Linked DNA regions of Homo sapiens: all the other regions are reported to be linked to region 2. The links are microRNA targets in miRTarBase. Many come from high-throughput screens and were not tested one by one. Region 2 holds a microRNA gene; each other region holds the end of a gene's coding sequence.
What was found. Region 2 holds the annotated microRNA hsa-miR-6763-3p (CUCCCCGGCCUCUGCCCCCAG, at 2,599-2,619, shown strand). A microRNA usually pairs through its seed, bases 2 to 8, with sites in the 3' UTR of a target mRNA and lowers its output. Matches are read on the target gene's strand: a 7mer-m8 pairs with bases 2 to 8, a 7mer-A1 pairs with bases 2 to 7 and ends in A, and an 8mer does both.

Region 1: miRTarBase lists CPNE5 as a target of hsa-miR-6763-3p. Seed matches in the 3' UTR shown: 7mer-m8 at 3,700-3,706.
Region 3: miRTarBase lists NKX2-3 as a target of hsa-miR-6763-3p. Seed matches in the 3' UTR shown: 7mer-m8 at 2,321-2,327.

What each region holds. Positions count from the first base shown.
Region 1 is chr6:36,736,925-36,745,426 of GRCh38, reverse strand. CPNE5 (copine 5) reads left to right here. Exons shown (of 21, transcript NM_020939.2): 17 at 1-39; 18 at 277-379; 19 at 1,102-1,159; 20 at 1,665-1,738; 21 at 2,941-4,652. The coding sequence ends at 3,159. It also overlaps the pseudogene GPR166P. Among named protein-coding and RNA genes, the nearest start is that of RAB44, 43 kb to the right of the region's middle. RefSeq lists a silencer at 294-494.
Region 2 is chr12:132,579,443-132,583,442 of GRCh38, forward strand. It overlaps MIR6763 (microRNA 6763), which reads left to right and starts at 2,555; the gene lies at 2,555-2,619. FBRSL1 (fibrosin like 1) reads left to right here. Exons shown (of 19, transcript NM_001367871.1): 16 at 1,997-2,074; 17 at 2,299-2,382; 18 at 2,620-2,824; 19 at 3,529-4,000.
Region 3 is chr10:99,533,637-99,542,138 of GRCh38, forward strand. It overlaps NKX2-3 (NK2 homeobox 3), which reads left to right. Exons shown (of 2, transcript NM_145285.3): 2 at 1,349-2,888. The coding sequence ends at 2,085. Among named protein-coding and RNA genes, the nearest start is that of NKX2-3, 4.9 kb to the left of the region's middle. RefSeq lists silencers at 1,669-1,818, 3,394-3,473 and an enhancer at 6,516-7,224.

The DNA.
Region 1 (8,502 bases), not on the chromosome of region 2:
CCCCACCAACTTTGCCCCCGTGGTCACCCACGTGGCCAGGTGAGTGCCGCTGCCACCGCCTCCAGGCACTCACAAGGCCTCTGTTTCCACACCAGCTCTGCCTCTGGGTGGTGGGAGGGGGTTTCTCTTCCCACGCACTTGCCTTTCAGGGAGCCCTGACCCTGAAGAGATTCCCCCAAGAGCTGTCACCCTCCAAAGTGTTCAGGGTCCTTGTTTAGGGGGGAACATGCCCAGAGGTCCCGCAGACAGACCTGAGCCCACACCTGCCCCACCCAGGAATGCAGCGGCCGTGCAGGATGGCTCCCAGTACTCGGTGCTGCTCATCATTACTGATGGGGTCATCTCGGACATGGCGCAGACCAAGGAGGCCATTGTCAACGTAAGCAAGGAGTGTGCGGTGGGGGAGGCGGTTTGAGGAGTGTCTTCCTCCCCGTTAGGGGAACCCTGGGGATGTGCCTACCTCCTTGACCTTAGGGAAATGCTTGGAGATGACTTGGGCGTGGCTTCTCATTTCCCTGCCTCACTGGGCCCCACTGCCCTCATCCACCTTCTGGCCTCTGGCTGCAGAGTCCGGTGCTGGATAGTGGATTCTAGCGGGTGGAAGGGGTGCCCAGATCATGAGAGATCTGGCTGGTGAGCTCTGTTCCCACCTCTTAGTCACGCTCTGGTCTACTCCCTCCAGACCCCAATGACTCCCTCATTAACCCATCTCTAGGACCGCTTCCCCCTTTCCCAGGCCAGCCTGGCCAGGTCAAAGGAGTGGGAGGGGAGGCTCAGAGTTGGGGAAGCTCAGGAACATGGCTCCCCAAGCCGGTGGTCTCCCTGTAAGAGGGGATGGGGGTGACTCACCAAAGCAGACCTATGACCCATTCCCCCTGCCACCCTCCCTCTCTCCTCCAGGCGCAGCCTGGTTTCCTTTGCTCTTTATCTCTGAGTGCCCTCCCTCTCCCTACCCCCTTTTCTGTGTTTCTCTGTCTCTCCATGTTCACTCTCCCATTTCTTTCCTGCCCACCCCTTCCTGTCCTACCCCTGATTTCTCCTTCCTTTTAACTGGGTCCCAATTGGGTCCAACCTTTCCCTGCCCCCCATGCTGTCTCCCAGGCTGCCAAGCTCCCCATGTCCATCATTATCGTCGGCGTGGGCCAGGCAGAGTTCGACGGTGAGTCCAGCTGCTGCCTTCCCCTCCTTTCCTTCCCTAGCCACGCAACCCTGCCCCCACCCCAGATGTTTCCCCAGAGGCTGTGGTCCCCTGGGAATGACCCCTCCCAAAAGAGTGAGAGCTCCCGCCTGGGCGTGTGTGTCTGGGTGAGTGTGCAGGGTGTGGGACGCATTTGTTTGCTCAGGGAAGGGTGTGTCAGGTCTGGGTGTGCACCCACACCCACATCCCAAGGCTGTGGGGAGGAGGCCCCAAGTCACTTCTTTCTCCTCCAGCCCTGGGAGTCTGGGGAGGGTGGTGAACCAAAGCACTGGGCTCAAAGTCAGAGGCTCACCTGATCGGGCTCCTCCTGGCCCCTGGCCTCAGTTTCCTCATCTCTAACACGGGGCATGGGCCAGTGGTCTCGGCCCTGGATTGGCCTGGGATGAAAGGACAAGTCCACTCTCCTGCTAGGGCCAGGGGTCCACCGTTAATCTCACCCCGCCCCATGACACTCCTCCCCTCACAGCCATGGTGGAGCTGGATGGCGACGACGTGCGGATCTCCTCCCGGGGGAAGCTGGCTGAACGCGACATCGTCCAGGTGAAGCCCAGGCCTTGCCTGCCCCATGGGAAATTCAAGAGCCCCTCTAGCCAGGCGGACCTCACACCCCCTTTGGGGGCTTCCCTGGTGAAGGGCCCAGAAGGGAGGCACTGGGAGCCCCAAAGTGGCCCAGCCACCACCGAAGGGAGTAGGAGTCAGTCCTCGGCCATGCTGTGGTCTGGGCTGGGCCCCCCTCTGTCACATCTGGGACACACTCCTAACATTGCGGGTGCCCAGCCAGAGGCCAGAACCCTCTGCCAGCCCTTCCTCAGCCTCCAGGCCTCTGTGGTCAGCCTCGTTCTGGTTTTTTTCTGCCCCTTGAAGGCTGAGGCAGTGTCTTTAGTGTTGCTGCAGCCTTCTCCAAGAATAGGCATTGCTCGGTTAACTGAATCAATGTAAGCATCTCCATGAACGGTGCAAATATAATGAGCAGAAAGACCTTTGTCCTCAGGGAATTCCCATGCAGTCTCACGTGGAAGAATGCACCCTCCGCAAGCACTTCCCCCACTCATCCCCTGCAGAGGAGGCCCTAGTGCTTAGGAGATGCAGAAGACAAAGCTGACATCCTGCATACCCCCTTGGTTTAAAAATTGGGGCCCAGTATCCCAGGTGTGGAGACCAAACATAGGGGGCTGGAAACCAGAGCAAGACAACCTGGGAGGTGGGACCGGCCCATGCTAAGGCCTGGAGGCAGGAGTGAGCCAGAAGAGGCGCTCAGGATGGAGGGCACCCCCGGGAAGAAGCCAGATGGGCCTGGCATTAGGCATTGGCCAGATTAGCCCCAGAGAGAAAAGGAACGAAGAGAGGCCAGAGAGAGAGGGCTCTGCTGGACAGGTCGGGGGAAACCCAGGAGGGCACGTGCCCCAGAAGTCAGGGATTCAGTTGGCATTTCGGAAGCACCTACTCAGAGCCTGTGCTTAGTGCCGAGGTGGAGAAATCGTGTTCAGTGGTGTGTCCTGGTGTGGAATAGGGCTCAGTTTTTGTCGAGTGAATGAAAGAATAGTGACTATGACTATAGTTACTGACTGCCCAAACCCAGGGAGTTGAGGGATACAGTCCCTCAGGTAATTCAGAAAGGTGGGGGGATTGAGTCAAGTGAGCAGAGGCTGGGAGGGGGGTGGGGATGCAACCCCAGGCCTGGAGATTTTGGGGGCCAGGGTCCCACAGGAGGCACTGCCTGACCCTGCCCTCCCACTTGCCAGTTTGTACCCTTCCGGGACTACGTGGACCGCACAGGCAACCACGTGCTGAGCATGGCCCGCCTGGCCCGAGACGTGCTGGCAGAGATCCCTGACCAACTGGTGTCCTACATGAAGGCACAGGGCATTCGCCCGCGTCCCCCACCCGCAGCACCAACCCACTCGCCCTCGCAGTCCCCAGCCCGCACGCCCCCTGCGTCCCCCCTGCACACGCACATCTGAACCTGGTCTCAGCAGGCAGGTGGCTGGGGCCTGGGAGAGGCCAGGTGAATGGGAGGCCAGGGCCCCAGACTCCCCGAAGTTGGCCTGCCCGGCCTTTGGGACATCTGTGTGCCTGGGAGGCTGCCAGGGGGTGGGGCTTCTGAAGACCCCTCCTCAATTTCTTGGCCTCACTTATTGCCCAAACCCAGGGAGTTAGGGGGGTACGGGTGAAAGAGGGGTACACAGGGACCCAGCCCTTCTCTTCTTCCCCAATACCTGGCTCTAACCCAGCCAGGAAGGTGTAAACAATAAGGGTGATTGGGGTCCCTGTCGCCCACCCCCGGCAATCCTATTTGCTTACCTGTCACCCTGAAGCCTGGGCTTGGCCTCCTCCAGCCCCCCATCTCCGTCCCATCCTCCCATGGTGTCTACTCCTGTCCCTGAGCCCCGCCCTGTGGTCTATCCTGTGCCCGATTTCCAGTGAACCCCATGAAGCTGATGGGTTTGCAGGAAGGCCTGAACATGTGCACCCTCCCAGGGACACTGGATGCGCTGGGAGCCCCGGGGACCCCATGGGGTGCTGTAATCATGGACCGTAGGCCATGTGATGGGCCTGAAGTGGAGGCTGCTCAGCACAGAGCCCTTTCTGGTGCCTCTCGAACTCAGTACGATGCAAGTTCTAGACACACAGATGGCCTGTGGAGGCCTCTCCCTGGTGTGGGCCCACAGGTACTTCCATGGTTGACTCCTGGCTTCAGGAATCCCTTCCTCCCTCCAGAGGCTTCCCAGGGCCCTCGGTGCCCACGCCTCTGCCCATCTGGAGGCCTGAGTAAGGAGTGGCTCAGCCCCACGTTCCCACACTGCTCCTGCTCTTTGCCCTGTATCCCATGAGGCTAGGAGACAGGAGTCCTGGGTTTGAGCCCTGCCTCCCCCCACTGCCTAATGTGGGAACCCAAGCAAGGCCCTTCTACCTTTTGGGCCTCAGTTTCCATGTCTGTACCACAAGAGGGTTGACCAGATGGCCCCAGGTTTTCCTTTAGGTCTGACATCCTGAGGGTCATTCATCCCATGCCCAGTTCCCCCCATCCTACTCCTAACAGATGTGACCCTACTTGAGGCCGCCTTGGCTTTTGGGTCACCCTGTCTCATCCCATCACCCCAAACATACCCTAGTCCTTCAGCCTGGGGCTCTGGCATCTGAGCCCGAGCTCCTGCCCCTGCTGTGGGAAAGGTGGGGAAGAAGGGGATCTCCCTCCCGGGCCCACCCAGCTGCCCAGCCTTTGCCCACTCGGGGAGCAGATCATGCATGCCAATCCCTGTTGCCGCATGGAGCTCCTCAGCCCACTGACCTCTCCGTGCCTGGTGCAGGCCAGGCCCCCGTCTTCCGCCTGCCTCTGCTTCCCCGTCATGCATGGTGGTGGTGTTTCTACGGTGTCTGGTTCTGTGCCCGTCTCTGAGACAGTCTCTGTGTGGAATTTGCCTTAAACTGAAGTAAATTTGGTTCTTTTAGTAAAGCACGAAGTTTTTCTTTCTTCTCTGAAAAATAGCACTGACGTTGCTGCTTGACAGGGTCCAGTTCTCCTCTGTGGCTTCCTTCAATTGTTTGCTTCAGTGAGATTTACAATCAAAGGCCACGTGCCACGCTCTGTGCTAGGCATTGAGGATGCAGCCATGAACAAAGCACAGACCCTGTCCCTGCACAGGGCTTACAACACACACACAGATAATATGGGAGAGACCCAGCAAACACATCAACAAATAGGCTAGTAACATCATTTCAGGTGGTAGCAAGAGTTCTAAAGACACATGAGGGAGAAGGAGGGTGATGTTTTCGATGAGGTGGTCAGAGAGGGCCTCTCAGAGGAGGTCATGGTTGAGGTGAGCCCCCAGGAAGTAAGACAGGGAGCCACGCTGATATCTGGGGAAGGGAGCTCTAAGTAGAGGGACCAGCAGGCGCAAAGGCCCTGTGGTAGGAGCTTCCTTGGTGCATTTGCAGGAGAGCGAGGCCAGTGTGGCTGGAGCTGAGTGCAGGAAGGGAAAGTGCTAGAGATGGGGTCGGAGAGGTGAAGAGGCCAGAATGCACAGGCCGCATAGGCCATGATGAGGCCTTTGGCATTTACTGAGTGAAACGGGAAGCCATTGAGGAGGTGAGAGAAGTGAGTAACATCATCAGAATTTCCTCTAAAATAAACGGATTGCTTTATTGCATTTGATCACTCATTCACTCATCTCTCAACAAGTATTTACCAAACATGAGTGCCAGGCCCCACTCACGTATTGGAGACCATGCTGGAGATGCACACACAGAATTGCACCCTCAGGGGTGCCCCTGCTCTGGGGCAGTGAGCGAGGAAATACTACAACCATGGGGTACTGATGCCAAGCCATCAGGAGGGGCTGGGTAATCTGTGGGCACCAGAGTCACTGTGCCATGAGGAGGAGTCTGGCATCCCCTGTGCAATGGGGTCGTCACCACCACCCCCATCCTTGCAGGGTCATCGTGTGGCCAGAGTGACGAGTACATAAGGTTGCATGTGACATATGTGACATGCGCCCAGGACCCATGGCATTTTAGGTGCCCAAGAAACACTGTTTTCCTCTTGTTCCTCTTCACATATAAATCCCTGTGGCCATCAGGGACCAGGATCATAGCAAAAGGGGATTTCTCCCTTCTCTGGGCAAGTTTGTTCCCAGATTAGCCCTCCAGGCAGCCATTCCCACCCTGAACATCACAAGAAATTTGGAACTAATTATACCAAAGTTTGGGACTTGTTTACTTCTTATGATTTTATAGTAAATGGGTGCTGATTCACGGCTGTCCCTATAATTACATGCCCCTGTGACTTACATTCTGATATGCTTTGAGTGGGAACAGGGTGGGGTCACAGCTTGGAAGGAGGGAAGTTCCCATAACCAGCAGCTCATGTCACCTCACCACAGGGGCCGTGGGAAAGTGTCAGGAGAGGGTGCTTGCCTGGCAGGGGGACTGAGGCACAGAGCCACTGCCGGGGGCGGGACGGGACACCAAGAGCATCTTTGCTGTGCCCAACACCGTAGCATCTTGTGGATTCTTTCCCAAGGTGTGTTCCACAGAATACTGGCTCTCTGGCATGGAGTTTGGGAACCTGCCTGCTGTGCGTCCCTCTCGAGAGTCTCAGTGGCCTTTTGGGTATTCAAGGCTCTGGTAAGTCCTACAGCAAAGGGACCAGTATGATTTGGTTCAACCCAACGTTTCTCAAGCTTTGTATCACAGAGTCAGTGTGTGTATGTGTGTTTTGCTGGTAACACCGTCACCAAGCAGAACGTGCTGTCTTGGGAATTTCAGTAGAGACAATCTCCCGGGTTTCCAGGCCAACATGGAAGCCTGAAGCCTGCCCTGAGCAGGCCAGAGGGAGGGCACTGAGGGTGGGAAAAATGGAAACCTCAAATTGGGCTCTGGAGAGAAGAAAAGGGCTCTGAAAGGGATCCCTGCCCCAGGTGCTTCAGGAAGAGAAGCCACAGGGAAGAAAGGAGGGCTTCAGACATTCACAGTCCCGGAGTCATGGCTGCATGGTTGACTGGATTTTTGTCCCCCTATTGGACTGAGGGGTGTGTGGAACAGAGCTGGAGGGGTGGGCAGAGAGGGGAAAGGCTGTCCTGCCTCTGAGCTCACCCCCCAGGCTGTGGCTGGCCCTCTGCTCCCCCTACTCAATCTCCTGGCCTTCAGGATTAAGGACCCTAGGCTGTTACCCCCCAGATCATTCTCCACCCACTTCTCTGCCTTTGGAAGCCCCTCTGTCCTCCTCTTGTCCACTCACCTCAAATACCCCTGAATTAATACAAATAAAATAATAATAGTAGCAATGACCAGCACGCATATGCACTTACTAAGCATCCTTCTAAGCACTTTACATGTGTTTAGCAAATTCATCTTCATAACAACCCTGTGAAGAAGGTATGTACTGTCATCATCCCATTTTCCAGATGAGAACACTGAGACACAGAGGCTCAAGATCACACAATTAGAGAGCAGTGGAGCCTACAGAGATCTGAGCCTGAAAGTGGAGTGGGAGGATCCATCTGGTTACCTAGAGATGTGAGCTCTAGCTGAGCCATTTAGTTGCTTTGTGACCTTGTTTGGGCCATCTGCCCTCTGGGTCTCAGTCTCTCCACTGGTAAAATAGAGGGGATGGGCTGTCAGGTCCCTAAGGGTCTTCCCATCTCCCTTGAATCTCAGCGCATCCATCAGCCTATACTCTTAGACCCCCGCCAGGCCCCACAGGCCTCCTGAGGCCCTGTCACGGCCAGGCTGGACAGTCGCCACCACTGAGGCTGCCACTCCCACACCTCTGGGATGCCTGGCCATCATCGGCCTGCAGAAGAGGTCCCTGAGTCCTGCCTGGAAGGGGCGGGAGAGGTAGAAGCAGAGGATAGGGCTGACAGCGCAATTGGAGTAGGCCAGGATGGTGCAGAGGCTGGAGGCCACAAAAGCAGCCGGTGTGGCAGGCAGGTAGCCCATGGCTGCCACATAACCCAGCATGGAGCAGGGCCCCCACATCAGCACAAAAACCACCAGCACCACAAGGCTGAGCCCTATGTTCTCTTAATGCTCCTGGATGCTCTCTCCCATGGGACCTTGGGGCTGGGTCCACAGGAGCCAGCCCACGTGGCTGAAAGAGCAGCCCAGCCCCAGCGTGCATGGCAGGAAGGCCAGGGCTCCCAGCAGGCTGATGTAGCAGGAGGTCCCAGCAGGGCTCAGGAGCAAGAGGCAGGCCTGGGTCTTGGGAGCCCCCGCTGTCTCCTCCTCCACTGCCACCCTCTGGAACAGCCAGTTGGGCAGGGATTCTGTAAGGCCCAGGGCCCACATGGCCCCACAGAGCAGCAAGAGGGTGCCCCAGCCGGCTGGGAAGGCCAGGTCAGGCCGGGCCACAGCCACATGGCGCAGGAGAGCTGTGGCCACCATGCTATAGAAGATGCAGAACGTGGTGGCTGTGTTGGTGGCCTGGCTAATGGTGCAGATGGCAGGGCCCAGCCACCAGTTGTGCTGCAGGAAGCTCAGCAGCAGCACAGGCACCACGCAGGCCAGGAAGAGCAGGTCAGATGGCGTGATGTTCATCATGAGGCTGTGGGTCAGGGAGTGGAGCGGGTGGGGGGAGCCCGGGCCCCGGCCCACCACCAGCAGCATGAGCCCATTAGCTGACAGCCCCACCAGCAGGATGAGGCCACAGACCCCAGCAGAGATGAGTCGGAGCAGTCGCTCAGGTGTGGCCGTGAGCTGCGTGGTGAACGTAGCATTGGGCTCCATTCTGTTTCAAACACACAAGGACAAAGTAGAAACCAGCCAGCCCCAAAGGCCGCCTTCCCCATTCCTGCTAAGCCTCCTTT
Region 2 (4,000 bases):
GCTGTTGCTAGAAAACAGAAGTGCGTATCTGTTTTGAAGATTTGTATGCCATCTCTTGATGCTGTAACTAGCAATCCTGCTAAATTCTTACGAATGCAAAGACATTTGTCTGTCAATTCCTTTACCTTTTCTGTGTAGAAAGTCATATCTAGGAGTGGGTGGTTTGCCCCCTTGTGTAAACTGTCGGTACGTTTCTGGAGCCACTGTTCCAGCGCTTTGTTCCAGATGAGTTTCCTGAGTAAGCCTGGCCTTTACTTTCCTGTGCTGCACCTGGCAGGTTTTGTCACGAGGGCTCTTTGCCGTCTTCAGTGAGTTAAGGCGCTTTCCTTTTTTCTGCTCTCTGGAAGAGCTCTTGTGAGGTCTGATCCTCACTGCCTTCAAGGCTTGGAGGCTCACAGTTCAGGTTCCAAGTACTGATTTTTTTTCTCCACTGGGTGTGGTATTCCTCAAGCTGTTTCTTCTGGCATCGGTTTCAGTAACGCGAGTGTTTCCAGTAAGTTGATTTGGGGCAGGCTCCGTAGCTGTCGGTGTCCATCCGTCACGCCTGAACTCCGCAGGCCCTGGCAATTCTTAATGTTGCTTGGCTGTGTCGTCTTTTTTCCTTCATTAATCTCACCAGAAGTTTGTCCATTTCACCAGTATTTTATTTTAATTTATTTATTTTGAGACGAAGTCTTGCTGTGTCGCCAGGCTGGAGTGCAGTGGTGCGATCTTGGCTCACTGCGACCTCCACCTCCCGGGTTCAAGCGATTCTCCTGCCTCAGCCTCCCAAGTGGCTGGGACTACAGGCAGGCGCCACTACACCTGGCTAATTTTTGTATTTTTAGTAGAGACATGGTTTCACCATGTTGGCCAGGCTGGTCTCAAACTCCTGACCTCAGATGATCCTCCTGCCTCGGCCTCCCAAAGTGCTGGGATTACAGGCGTGAGCCACTGCGCCCGGCCAATTTCACCAGTATTTTTAAAGGAGCAGCTCTGACCTCGCTGCCTTCTCTGTGTGTTTCCCTGTGTGTCGCTCACTTTTCTGGCCCTGTCTAGCTTGATCTGGTGGTTGAGAATATTAATTCCTCAGCCTCTCCCAGTGCGGGCATTTGAGGCAGTGTACTCTCCATCTCCTCCTGCACACGCTTTGACAAGCTGTGTTTTCGTAGCATGGGGCAGGCTGTCTTCCTCTCTAGTTTAGAAGAGTGGCATCAGCTTTCATGCCACAGCTCAGTGGAGACCAGAAGCTCTGAATACAACTTGCCGCGTCCTACATGGGAGGCATGAGCACCCCATCTTTGAGGTCCCTAAGATTAGGGCTGGGAGGGAGTCGGAGTAACCTAAAGATGACGCCCTGCTGGTCTTTACCAGAAACCTGCTCTCTGGACCCATGTGGAGGACGGCCCCTGACCAACAGCACTGAATCCCCTGCAGCAGCCCCTCCCAGGGCCCGGGCCCAGGCCCCACACGGTTGCTCTCCAAGGGTTGTTGGGGGGCCAGGGCTGATGTTGACGTGGTGCTGTGGGCTGGGCCTGTGCCCAGGAATGCCACAAGGGGCTGCCATGTGCAGCCTCCAAGACAGAACCGTGTCCATCCAGGCCTGAGGCCCAGCACCACATTAAGAAGTGAGGACCATCTATCAGCTCCCAGGTGAAAGCTCTGAGATAAAGGCTTCAGGAGTGGTCCGATCAAGGTGCATGTTACTTGGACTTTGTCTCTGCCCAAGTTGCAGCCCCTTTGCTCCGAGGGTTGCATCGCACTCAGCACCTCCCTCCCTGCCCCCCTTGGGGTCCCAGGATGGCTGCCACTGCGGCTCCAAGTCAAACCTCCTCCGAATTGTGGGGTAGATTCCACCTCTTACTCTGACTGGACACGCTTCACCCCTCAGGGCATGCGAGAGAATGGGAGGTGAAGGTTCACAGAGGAAATTGGGGTGCTCCCTGTGAACAGAGCTGCAGATGGGAGGCCCTGGTGCTCTCTCCTGGCTTCTGTCAAACCTGGCTGCCCCCCCCAGGTGCCGCCCATCCTGCCTCCAACCCATTTGGACCCTCAGCCCATCCTGGCAGCTTCCTGCCCACTGGCCCCCTGACAGGTGGGTGTCTCTGAATTCAGCCCACGCAGCCTGGCTGGTTCCTCAGCAGCCTTGTGGCGGGGGAATTAGGTGGGCGGGAAGGTGGCCCCGAGCCCCAGGGAGCCCCTTGGGTCATGCAGGCAGTACCCACCAGGCCCAAAGCCTCTACAGCAGCCCCCACTGGGCCAGGTGGGAGCCGCAGCCCACGCCTCACAGACCTCTGGGTCCCGCGGTTGCCCCCACAGACCCTTTCAGCAGACCGAGCACCTTTGGGGGCCTGGGCAGCCTGAGCAGCCACGCCTTTGGGGGCCTGGGCAGCCATGCACTGGGTGAGTGACCCAGCCTGTGCCCCCCTCCCCCGATGCCCGCGCCCCTCCCCCATGCCTGTGTCCTCTGCAGGAACCCCGATGCCTGGCTGACCTCCCTCCTCTCTGGGCTGGGCCTCCTTGGGGCACCCCCTTCTCAGTGTCAGCCTGGGACCCTTCTAAAACCCCTACCGGGTTCTCCTGGGGAGTGGCTGGGGAGCAGACAGACCCAACCTCATGCTCCCCGGCCTCTGCCCCCAGCTCCCGGTGGCAGCATCTTTGCCCCCAAGGAGGGCTCCTCCGTGCACGGCCTGCCCAGCCCCCATGAGGCCTGGAACCGACTGCACCGGGCACCGCCCTCCTTCCCGGCTCCGCCCCCGTGGCCCAAGTCCGTGGACGCGGAGCGGGTGTCAGCCCTGACCAACCATGACCGAGAGCCGGACAATGGCAAGGAGGAGCAGGAACGGTGAGTGGCCCTCTTGTTCCGTATCCCCACCACACACCCCTACCCCGTTCTTTCCCCCCTCCCGTCATCCCCGGTTCCCCCTCCCCCGTTCCCTCTTCTCCCCGTTTCCTCTCCCTCACCGTTCCCCCTCCCCCTGTTCCCCTTCCCCGTTCCCCCTCCCCCATTCCCTCTCACCCTCCTCGCCCCACTGCTGCGCACTCACAGTCTGTCCAGCTCTGCTGAGCCCCGGGGTACGGGGGCCAAAGCTCTGCTCCCCGGCGACTCCTCCCTGCGGTGGGGAGTGAAGCCTGGGCCCTGGGGCTAGGAAGGATGAGGAGGGTGAAGACCCCACCACAGGCACCCACACCTGCCATCCGGGAGACCTCCAGGTGGCCGCGCCCTGACCCACGGAGTTTGAGGGAGGAGTTCGGGGGTGCGGCTGCCGGGAGGCCCCCCTGTCCTAACAGGGAGGGGCCCGTGGGGAGCCGAAGTCGCTGCAGGCGGCTCATCCCGCTTCCGTCTCCCGGCCAAGGTTTCCAGGCCGCCCAGCGGGGAGAGGACGCGTAGGTTTTGGGAGCCTGTGGGGGTGCGGGAGCTGTGGGTGCTGAGGGGTCACCGGCCACCCAGAAACTGGAGGCCCCGACAAGCAACGGGAACATCCCGGGGCTGCGCCGCGCGGCAGGACGGAGGTCTCGGGAGTGACGGGTCCGCCCTGCCGCCCCCAGGGACCTCCTGGAGAAGACGCGCCTGCTGAGCCGGGCCTCGCCCGCCACCCCCGCTGGCCACCCCGTCAGCGGCCTCCTGCTCCGGGCCCAGAGCGAGCTGGGCCGGTCCGGGGCCCCCGCGGAGCGCGAGGCCGAACCTCGGGTCAAGGAGAGCCGCTCCCCGGCCAAGGAGGAGGCCGCCAAGATGCCCGCGCGCGCATCCCCGCCCCACAGCAAGGCGGCCCCTGGAGACGTGAAGGTCAAGGAGGAGCGCGGGGAGGACGAGGCCTCCGAGCCCCCGGCGGGCGGCCTGCACCCCGCGCCCCTGCAGCTCGGCCTGGGCCGCGAGCGCCTGGGCGCGCCGGGCTTCGCGTGGGAGCCTTTCCGCGGCCTGGAGCTGCCACGTCGCGCCTTCCCCGCTGCCGCCCCCGCCCCGGGCTCCGCCGCCCTCTTGGAGCCCCCGGAGCGCCCCTACCGCGACCGCGAGCCCCAC
Region 3 (8,502 bases), not on the chromosome of region 2:
ACAAAGCGCAGGTACCTGCAAGGGAGCCGGGGTGGAGAGACAAGGACGAGGTGACCCTGACAACTACTCCCCCCAAAAGGGGGAAATGAGGGAAGGGAAGGTGGTTACTGCTGCCCTGATGCTGAGAGGCGACGTGGGCTCAGCGCCTGGGTCCTCATAACTGGCAGTATTTTTGCTCTTCCCCCCGCCCCAAAAGGCTCTTCCCCCAAAAAGGGCAGGAGCCTGGACCTTTTTCGTTTTCCCTCTAGGGTGAGATGAGTTCTCTTAGCCCAGGGCAGCCACCCCTTCTTCTCCGAAAAGACAGCCCAAGCAGCCTGTGTCTCTCGCACCCGCAGGGGCAGGAACTTTGGTGGAGGCCAGCTGGGCGGTTTCCTCCCTTCTCTGCTTGGAGCTCAGCGTCCTTGAACCCGTGGCACTCGGTAGAGAGAGAGGAGATGATCGGAAAGTGCGTGGGAACAATGTCTATTCCGCGCGACCATAGCTCTCACATCCCTAAGGCGCCAGCCTTTTTTGAAAATCCGTAACGTTTTGCTTTGTGTCCCAGGCTGCGGGCCTAATAGAAAACGCGCCGAACTTGAGTCCGAGATCTTGGCTGCTCACATCGGATGGGAAGTGAATTGATAGGGAGATGGGATAATCAAATAAAGTCCCCAAGGAAGTGTATTTAAGAGGACAGAATCACAGTCTTTCCCCAAGAGGCGGTTTGATGTGGCAGAGGCCAAGGCCTATGCTCTCATAGTTCCCAGAGCCGAAAATCGGCATGAAACTGTCTATAACTAGTCAATCAAACTTCATTTTCAAAGTGCACACAGATGTCGTCATAACATTCGCTTGTAGTCTTTTATAAGCCACACACACACACAAGTCCCTGAGCCATGCACAAGCGTTACACTCAGAACAGATTTTCGCGCAACCCATGCCCACCGGCCCACTCATACCAACACGCCTCACACCTTCAGTTATCCTTGGTGGAGTAGAATGCAAACGAGTTTGCAAATACTGTAGTTATTATGTAGTTGCAAGCCTTCATCCTGAAAATAGTCATTAGCACGTCGAGCCGCATATTTAATACAGAGTAATCTCTTCTCTCGCAGATGCTCAAGATCCAAATAAACACGCACTAACTACCCCTCTCCACGAAACGCGCCTCCGCCTGCTAAGGGCGTTCTTTGGGTACTGGGGCTGTCTCAGGGTCCCACAGCGCCAGGAGCCACAAACGTTCCCAAAAGTCCAGCCATTTACTACCGCACGCTCTGCGCAGCCACCAAAAAGGGTCACGGTGCTCCAGGACAGGAGCCGCGGTGCGGCCGGGAACAGCTAAGGACGCTGTTGTTTGCTTCTTCCGCAGAAAGCTGCCAGCTGAAGAAGTCTCTAGAGACGGCCGGAGACTGCAAGGCGGCGGAGGAGAGCGAGAGGCCGAAGCCACGCAGCCGCCGGAAGCCCCGGGTCCTCTTCTCGCAAGCCCAGGTCTTCGAGCTGGAACGCAGGTTCAAGCAGCAGCGGTACCTGTCGGCACCCGAGCGCGAGCACCTCGCCAGCAGCCTGAAGCTCACATCCACTCAGGTGAAAATCTGGTTCCAGAATCGCAGGTACAAGTGCAAGAGACAGCGGCAGGACAAGTCTCTGGAGCTTGGCGCACACGCGCCCCCGCCGCCGCCGCGCCGCGTGGCTGTCCCGGTGCTGGTGCGGGACGGCAAGCCGTGCGTCACGCCCAGCGCGCAGGCCTACGGCGCGCCCTACAGCGTGGGCGCCAGCGCCTACTCCTACAACAGCTTCCCCGCCTACGGCTATGGGAACTCGGCCGCGGCCGCCGCCGCCGCCGCCGCCGCCGCCGCAGCAGCGGCGGCCTACAGCAGCAGCTATGGCTGTGCGTACCCGGCGGGCGGCGGCGGCGGCGGCGGCGGGACCTCCGCGGCGACCACTGCCATGCAGCCCGCCTGCAGCGCGGCCGGAGGCGGCCCCTTTGTGAACGTGAGCAACCTAGGAGGCTTCGGCAGCGGCGGCAGCGCACAGCCGTTGCACCAGGGTACTGCAGCCGGGGCCGCGTGCGCTCAGGGCACCTTGCAGGGCATCCGGGCCTGGTAGGGACGGGGCGGGTCACGCGGCGGGCACCCCAGCGCAGCCTGGCGCCGCGGGACTGAAGCTCGAGAAGGGCCTGACCTAAAGGTCAGGTCCCCTCGTTAAAAAAATATGTACGTCTAGCTCCTCAGGGCTTCGGATCGCAGCTCACTCGAGGCCTGGGGAAGGGGACTCAGGGGCGAGGAGGATGACTGGGTCCGGTCGCCAGGACTGTCTCTGAGGCAGAAACGCCGGCTGGGCGCCGGGGAGGACGATGGCCCCGACCCTGGCAGCGAGAGGAGACCAGGAGGCTAGGACCCTGGCCGCGCTTGGTTCTTCCAAAGCGAGAAGGGCTTCTCTCCCTCTGCCTTTCCGCGGCCTCCGCGAAGCGTTGGCGGGGAGCCCAAGGACATAACAAATTAAAAGCATGAAGGAGAGAAAAATGGGGGTCGTGGCTTGAGAAATTCCAGGCCCTACCGATCCTCTGCCCCCTTTGCGGGCCTGGAGCGCCATAGCACAGTCGATTTCGTTTCGCAGCTGTCTCCCCTCCGCAGCAGATACCTCGGTCCAGATCTCCGGATTGTCGGGGGACGCAGGACTCTTCGAGGAAAACCAGCCGAATGAGATCAAAAGTTGGGGGTGGGGGGAGGCTGAACAAACTCAGGACCTGGTGGCCCACCGGAGGTGTTACCGGGTTTCCTTTCTGTTTCGTATTCTGTATTCAGCACATGTTATCTATCTATCTATCTATATAACTATAACCACACGCCGTGTAGACACCCGCTGCCACACACTACAGGAGTCAATAAACAAGGTGCAATATTTTCAAATCGTTGGCCGGCTACAGAATTTGTTTAGCCCCAAAGAGTGGAGAGGAATCCTTTAAATAGGGCGGGAAGGGGAGGAAAAGGTGCGAGGGGGAAAGCCATCCTCCCTGGGCGATCGCAGGCCTGGTCTCCCATGAGCCAGGCCCCAGGCTGCAAGTCTGATCTCTTCGGGGCTTTGTTCATTAATTTCTGTTTACTCTTGAGGGCTGGACAGGTCGAAGGCTCAGGGCCATTTGAAGTCCCTGGCTTTGCAGTTCCCCCTAAGTTTTACCCAGATGCTTGGACTAGCTGTATAGACCTGCGTTCGGTCAAGTCTTGCACTCTGCCCCACCTCGAGGGTCGCCAGGGAAAAGGAAGCCTCGCTCGCAGTCCCAGCTGTTGGCCGCGCGAAGGCGGCTCCTTCCCTGGCTGCAGCCAGGGCTACCAACGCGCCCGGGGGCGCTGCGCTGCGCCCCACTGCGGCCGAGCTCTCCCCCTTGGCCGCCCTCCCTTCTCCCCCGGCGGCCGCGGCTTTATGCGGCTCCTTGTCACTTGCGGAGAATGCCTGTGCGAGGCCTGTGCTGCCACACGGCCGATTGTGAGCGTGCCAAGGCGGGTGAATGGGGAGGCCTCAGAGCGCCGCGCCATTGTGGGGCCGGGCCTCGCTGAAAGGCGGCTCCGGGCCGGGAAGGTGCGGAAAGAATGGCTTTTTATTGGAGTCCCGAACAAAAGGTGTGGTAGGAAGGCGAGGTCCCCTGCGCGAACAAAAACCCCAGCGCGTCGGATTGACGTCCCCCCCGAGCTCCCCATTGCTTCTCAGAGCGGGGGCTTTGTGCAGCAGTCTGCTCAACAGAGGGACGGAGAAATGTGCGGGGGTTTTGTTCCCCACTTTTTGTGCTCTGGGGGAGGGGGCGGCAGGGGGACGGGGGCTGGGCGGGCAGCAGGGAGGGGCGCGCTGATTAGGCCGGGCCGGCCGGGGCGCTGAGACGTTCAGCGGGAGTCGGCGGCCTGAATGCTGGGTCATTATTGCTACAAGTTTAGCAATTTCTCCCTTACAGGAGGGGGTGGGGCTGCTAGGCTGTGGCGGGGCCGCCCGGCTGGGGAGCTGTAGAGACCCGAGGAGGAGGAAGAAAAAGAAGGAGGGAAGGGAGGGAGGGAGGCAGGCAGGCAAGGGAGCCCTCCGAAGCCCTCTGACCGCCCAGGATGCGACTTGGACACATCCGAAAGGGCCTAGCGGGAGGCTAGAGAAGCGGCACTTGGGGAGCGAAGACCTTCCCTCCCCTTGCCTCTCAGGCGGCAGAAAGACCCCAGAGCCGAGCGTGAGCCAGTGCACCAGACTGCTGGTCCCGCAGCAACTCGCGGCCGGGTCCCTCCTCTTTCACGTCGCCCCCGAACTGGGACACAGCCTCCCACCACCGTGATGCCCGAATCCCCTTCCCTACCGCGCTCCCTCTTCTGGAGCCGTTACCTTTCCATGGATTGCTTAGGCCAAGGGCTGGAGAGGAAATTCTTGGCTTGTTACTTGCTTCTCACAGCCTGCGGCTGCAGACTTTCATTCATTCATTCATCCATTCAACTAGGTATACTGAGCACCTACTATGTATTCACTTGTACTGTTGAGTTGCTGGGAACGGTGAAAAAAAAAGTGTCCCTAGATTGGTGGATTTTATTTTCAGGTGTGAAGGTGTGGGTGGAGGGAGGGTGAGACAATAAACAAATGCAAAAACAGAAGATGAATTCTAAAAAGGAAATAGAACCAAACGCTGGGAACGGAGGTCTTTTCAAGTAGGCGGTCGGGAAAGCCTGTTGAGATTACATTTAAGTCAATGCCTGAATGACAAAACGAAGTCATTCCAACAGTGCTTTGCTATCTCAGCCTCCATGCCTCAGCACATGCCCTCCCGTCCATCTGGAATGCCCTTCCACCCCCATTTTTCTGGTGAACTTTTGCCTCTCCTTCAAGGCCAAGCTTCTTTCCTGAACCACCTAAGTAGAGGTAATCACTCTCACATTTGTGCCACCAGAGTCTTAGGTACTTTCCAATATCATAACATGGTGTCATGCAAAGATTTATTTGTCTCTCTCTCTCCACAGGAGGTTGTGGAGGGCCAGGTTGGCATCTTTTCCCTCTGGGACAGGTACCACAGTAGGAGCTCATGGGGCCAGGAGGGTTGTGGGATGCCCTCTGGGCTCTGTCAGCACCTCTTCCCTGGTGCTTCATGGCTGCCTGAATTGCCTGGGTGCTGTTGAGCTGTGGCCTTGGCTGCTAGCTTCGAGGGAAATGTGGAACTGGAATCTTGCCTTCCCTGGGCCTAGTTCAGGACACTTGGCAACCCATCTCCAACCCAGCCGAAGGTCCCACCTCTTCTGTACCCCCTAATGCTGCCTAAGGACATCCCTGCCCACAATGTTGCACCTCGTCCTACAGCTCAATACCTAGAATAGGAGGGAGGCTAAGACCTTGGTGAAGACCTTGACCCCAGGGCACAAAATTTGGGGCCTGGGGAACACTAGGATGTGTAAGAAACCCAGGACCCGCGTCTGGGACCCAATTCGACTTCCCCTACATTCATTAGGTGCAGGGAATGGAAAGTCAGCAAGATCTGGGCAAGCACCCTGTGAGAGCTCACTCCCCCAGCACCTTCGCTCTTGGAACTGAAGTCTCTAGGAATAGCTGCCCTTGCTCCACTGGGGGTTTCCTAAGTAAGCAACTACTTTGCCTCCAATGCAGTCCCTTATCCTGCTGGGCCTTGGCCTCTCAGTGCTCCCAGCACCACACCCCCACTTTCCTTGCTGGGCTTCCTCTTGCCCTGCGTTGGTCTTCCTTCACTCTGCATTCCCTCTTGTTCTGGAAAAGTGGCTTGTGATCCTCACAGAGGAAACAGAACTGGTTCTGTGGATTGGCTTCCGCAAGTTTGCGTGTCTTGAGATACTTGAAGCCAGCCTAGACCAGCCCGCTCCCTACCCTGCTCCGGAGCCTGCAGTCTCCAGGTATAAATAGCTCCCACCACTTCACTGGAGGATTTCCCTACTGCTCCTTGCTGGGGTTCCTCCATCAGAGGTTGAAAACCCTTGACCAACGCAGGTACCTCTTCCTTGGGCTCCCTCTCCAGGGTAAAAGTTCCCCCTGACAGGACAAACTGCTGCTTCATTAAATTGTCCTGTGAGTCAGGAGGAATCAAAATCCAGGCAGGCCTTCTAATGACCCATGAGACTTGGGACAGGCCAAGTAAGTTGTTCCTCTGGGCTGTGGTTTTTGAGATCTATGGTAGAGAGAAGGGTGAACCATATGATTTCAGAGGTCACTTCAGGTTCAACCCTCCTGGGTTCCCTTGGATGAGTGTGTAACCCCTCCCCACCCAATAAGCTCAGGGTGGGTTGGCACCACTGAGGGAAGAAGTGGGATAGGTTTTAGATGGCTAGTACTTTTTCCTGCAAAGCCTGATCTTGAGGAGTTAAGAGGATGAACTCTGAAGTCAGACTGAGTCTATTCTATTCTCAGCAGCACCACAACCAGCAGTGGAAACTTTGAATAAGTTAGAAGTGCCCTGAACCTCAGTTTCTTCCTCTATAAAATGGGTATGCTTGTAGCACCTCTTTTTTTTTTTTTTGCCTACAGTAAAACATGCAAATAGTTAAGGATGCAACTCAGTGAATGTTTATATAGTAAACATTCGTGTATCAATCATTTTGGCTTTAAAAGTTAAATAAGATGATCAATCTCAATACCTAGGATATTGCGTCGACGTTCTAGGAAGATGTCTAGGACTCTATTCCGCCCTCGAGGCACTCCCAGGTCCCCGGGGTGAGGGGGGTGGAAACAGGGGGGTGGGAACAGGGGCGCGGGGGGGGTCGTGGGAAACAGGGCGGCACAAGGACCGAAAACCCCAGCTCCGCGGGCGCGTGTCACCACAGAGATCCGGCAGAGCCATTGCGGGTAAACCTGGGACAGGTGGCGCCCGGCGGGGTCTGCAGGGCTTTGATTTCGGCTGCATCTGGGACATTCGACAGAAGGGGAAGGTGGAAGGACGTTTCCTGGGGGAGGTTCGAGTCCTCTCTAGCCCACCACTGCAGGGAGGAAAGGGTAAGGAGTGGAAACCCGGCCCCTCTCCGCGGGGCTTCTCCCGGGCCCGCGCGCGCCGCCGGAGTGACTTGGGGCCGCGCCTCTGCCAGGGTGGGGCCGGGTGGGCAGGGGCTTCCCTGGAGACTCGCGCGGGAGACCGGGAGGTCCAAGGCCCCAGTCGCAGCCGCCCAGTTCCTCGCTTTCTGGTTCAGGACGCCAGTGGGGACTTCCCGGGCGCCTCCTCCCAACTCCAGGGGCCCGAGCCCTGGAAGGACTGTGATTTGTCCGCGACTGGAGAGAGTTCAGTGCAGTCTGGCCCCGCGCGAGAGGGAAGGATCCTTTCTAACCGCCCGGAGCAGCGCAGGTGCCACGGGGCGGGGCGCTCAGGGGCCGGCCGCTGCTTCCCAGGCGGGCCCGGGGCGGTCAGAGCCAGCTGGGCCGGGAGTGCCCCGGCGAGCCCCGGGAGAGCCTAGCCGACTCTGCAGGTGAGAGTCCAAACTGCAAGAGCCAGCAGTCCTGACGGTCGCGGAGGTAGGACGTCCTGGGTGGGGCTTAAGGGGCACGGGGAGGCCCCTGCAGGGAGTCCTGGGGAGGCGTCAGGGGGAGGGGGCACTGATCTCTAAACCACGTTTGCTTTGTTGAAAATATGCCCCCACCCCACCCCACCTAGATTGTAAGTAACAGATTAATAACAGCTGAGGTTTTCCAAAGGAGCGATTAGTAAACTTCTTATTGGAGTGGGAGATACATATAGAAAACCCCAAGCGTACGGCTCGCTCTATCTTTATAAACGGAACCCTTCCATGCTACCAACTCCCAGATGAAGAAGCAGAACATTATCAGTCCCCGGAAAGTACCCCCATGCTCTCTTCTTGTCACTACTACCTGGAGCCACTAAGGGTAACCACTGTCCTGGCTTCTAACAGCACAGGTTAGTTTTGCCCGTTTGGGAACTTTATCTAAATGGAATCATATAGATTGCACTCTTGTGCGCCTGCTTCATTCGTTCGTGAGATTTATCCATATGGCTGCATGTAGTTGTAGGTCGTTCATTTCAGTTACTTTAGAGTGTTCCACGGTGTGAATATACCACAATCAATGTATCCATTCTGCTGTTTATAGGTATTTGGATTGTTTCTAGTTTTTAGGCTGTTGTGAATAGCACCACTACGATATGCTAAAACAGCGTCCAATAGAACTTCCTGCGATGATAAAAAATGTTCTATATCTGTGTTGTCCAACATGGTAGCCATTAGTGACATGTGACTTTTGAGCACTTGAAATGTGACAGGTGTGACTGAGGAACTCAATTTTTAATTTTCTAAAATTGCAATTAATTTAAATGTAAATAGCTAATACGGCTAGAGCTACTCTATTGGACAGCACAGTTCTAGCTTGTCTTTTGGTGACCACAATACATATTTCTATTCAGTATATGCCTAGGAGTGCAATTGCTATTTTTTTTTTTTTTTTTTTTTTTTTTTTTTTTGAGACGGAGTCTTACTCACTCTGTCACCCAGGCTGGAGTGCAGTGGTGCAATCTTGGTTCACTGCAACCTCCGCCTCCCAGGTTCA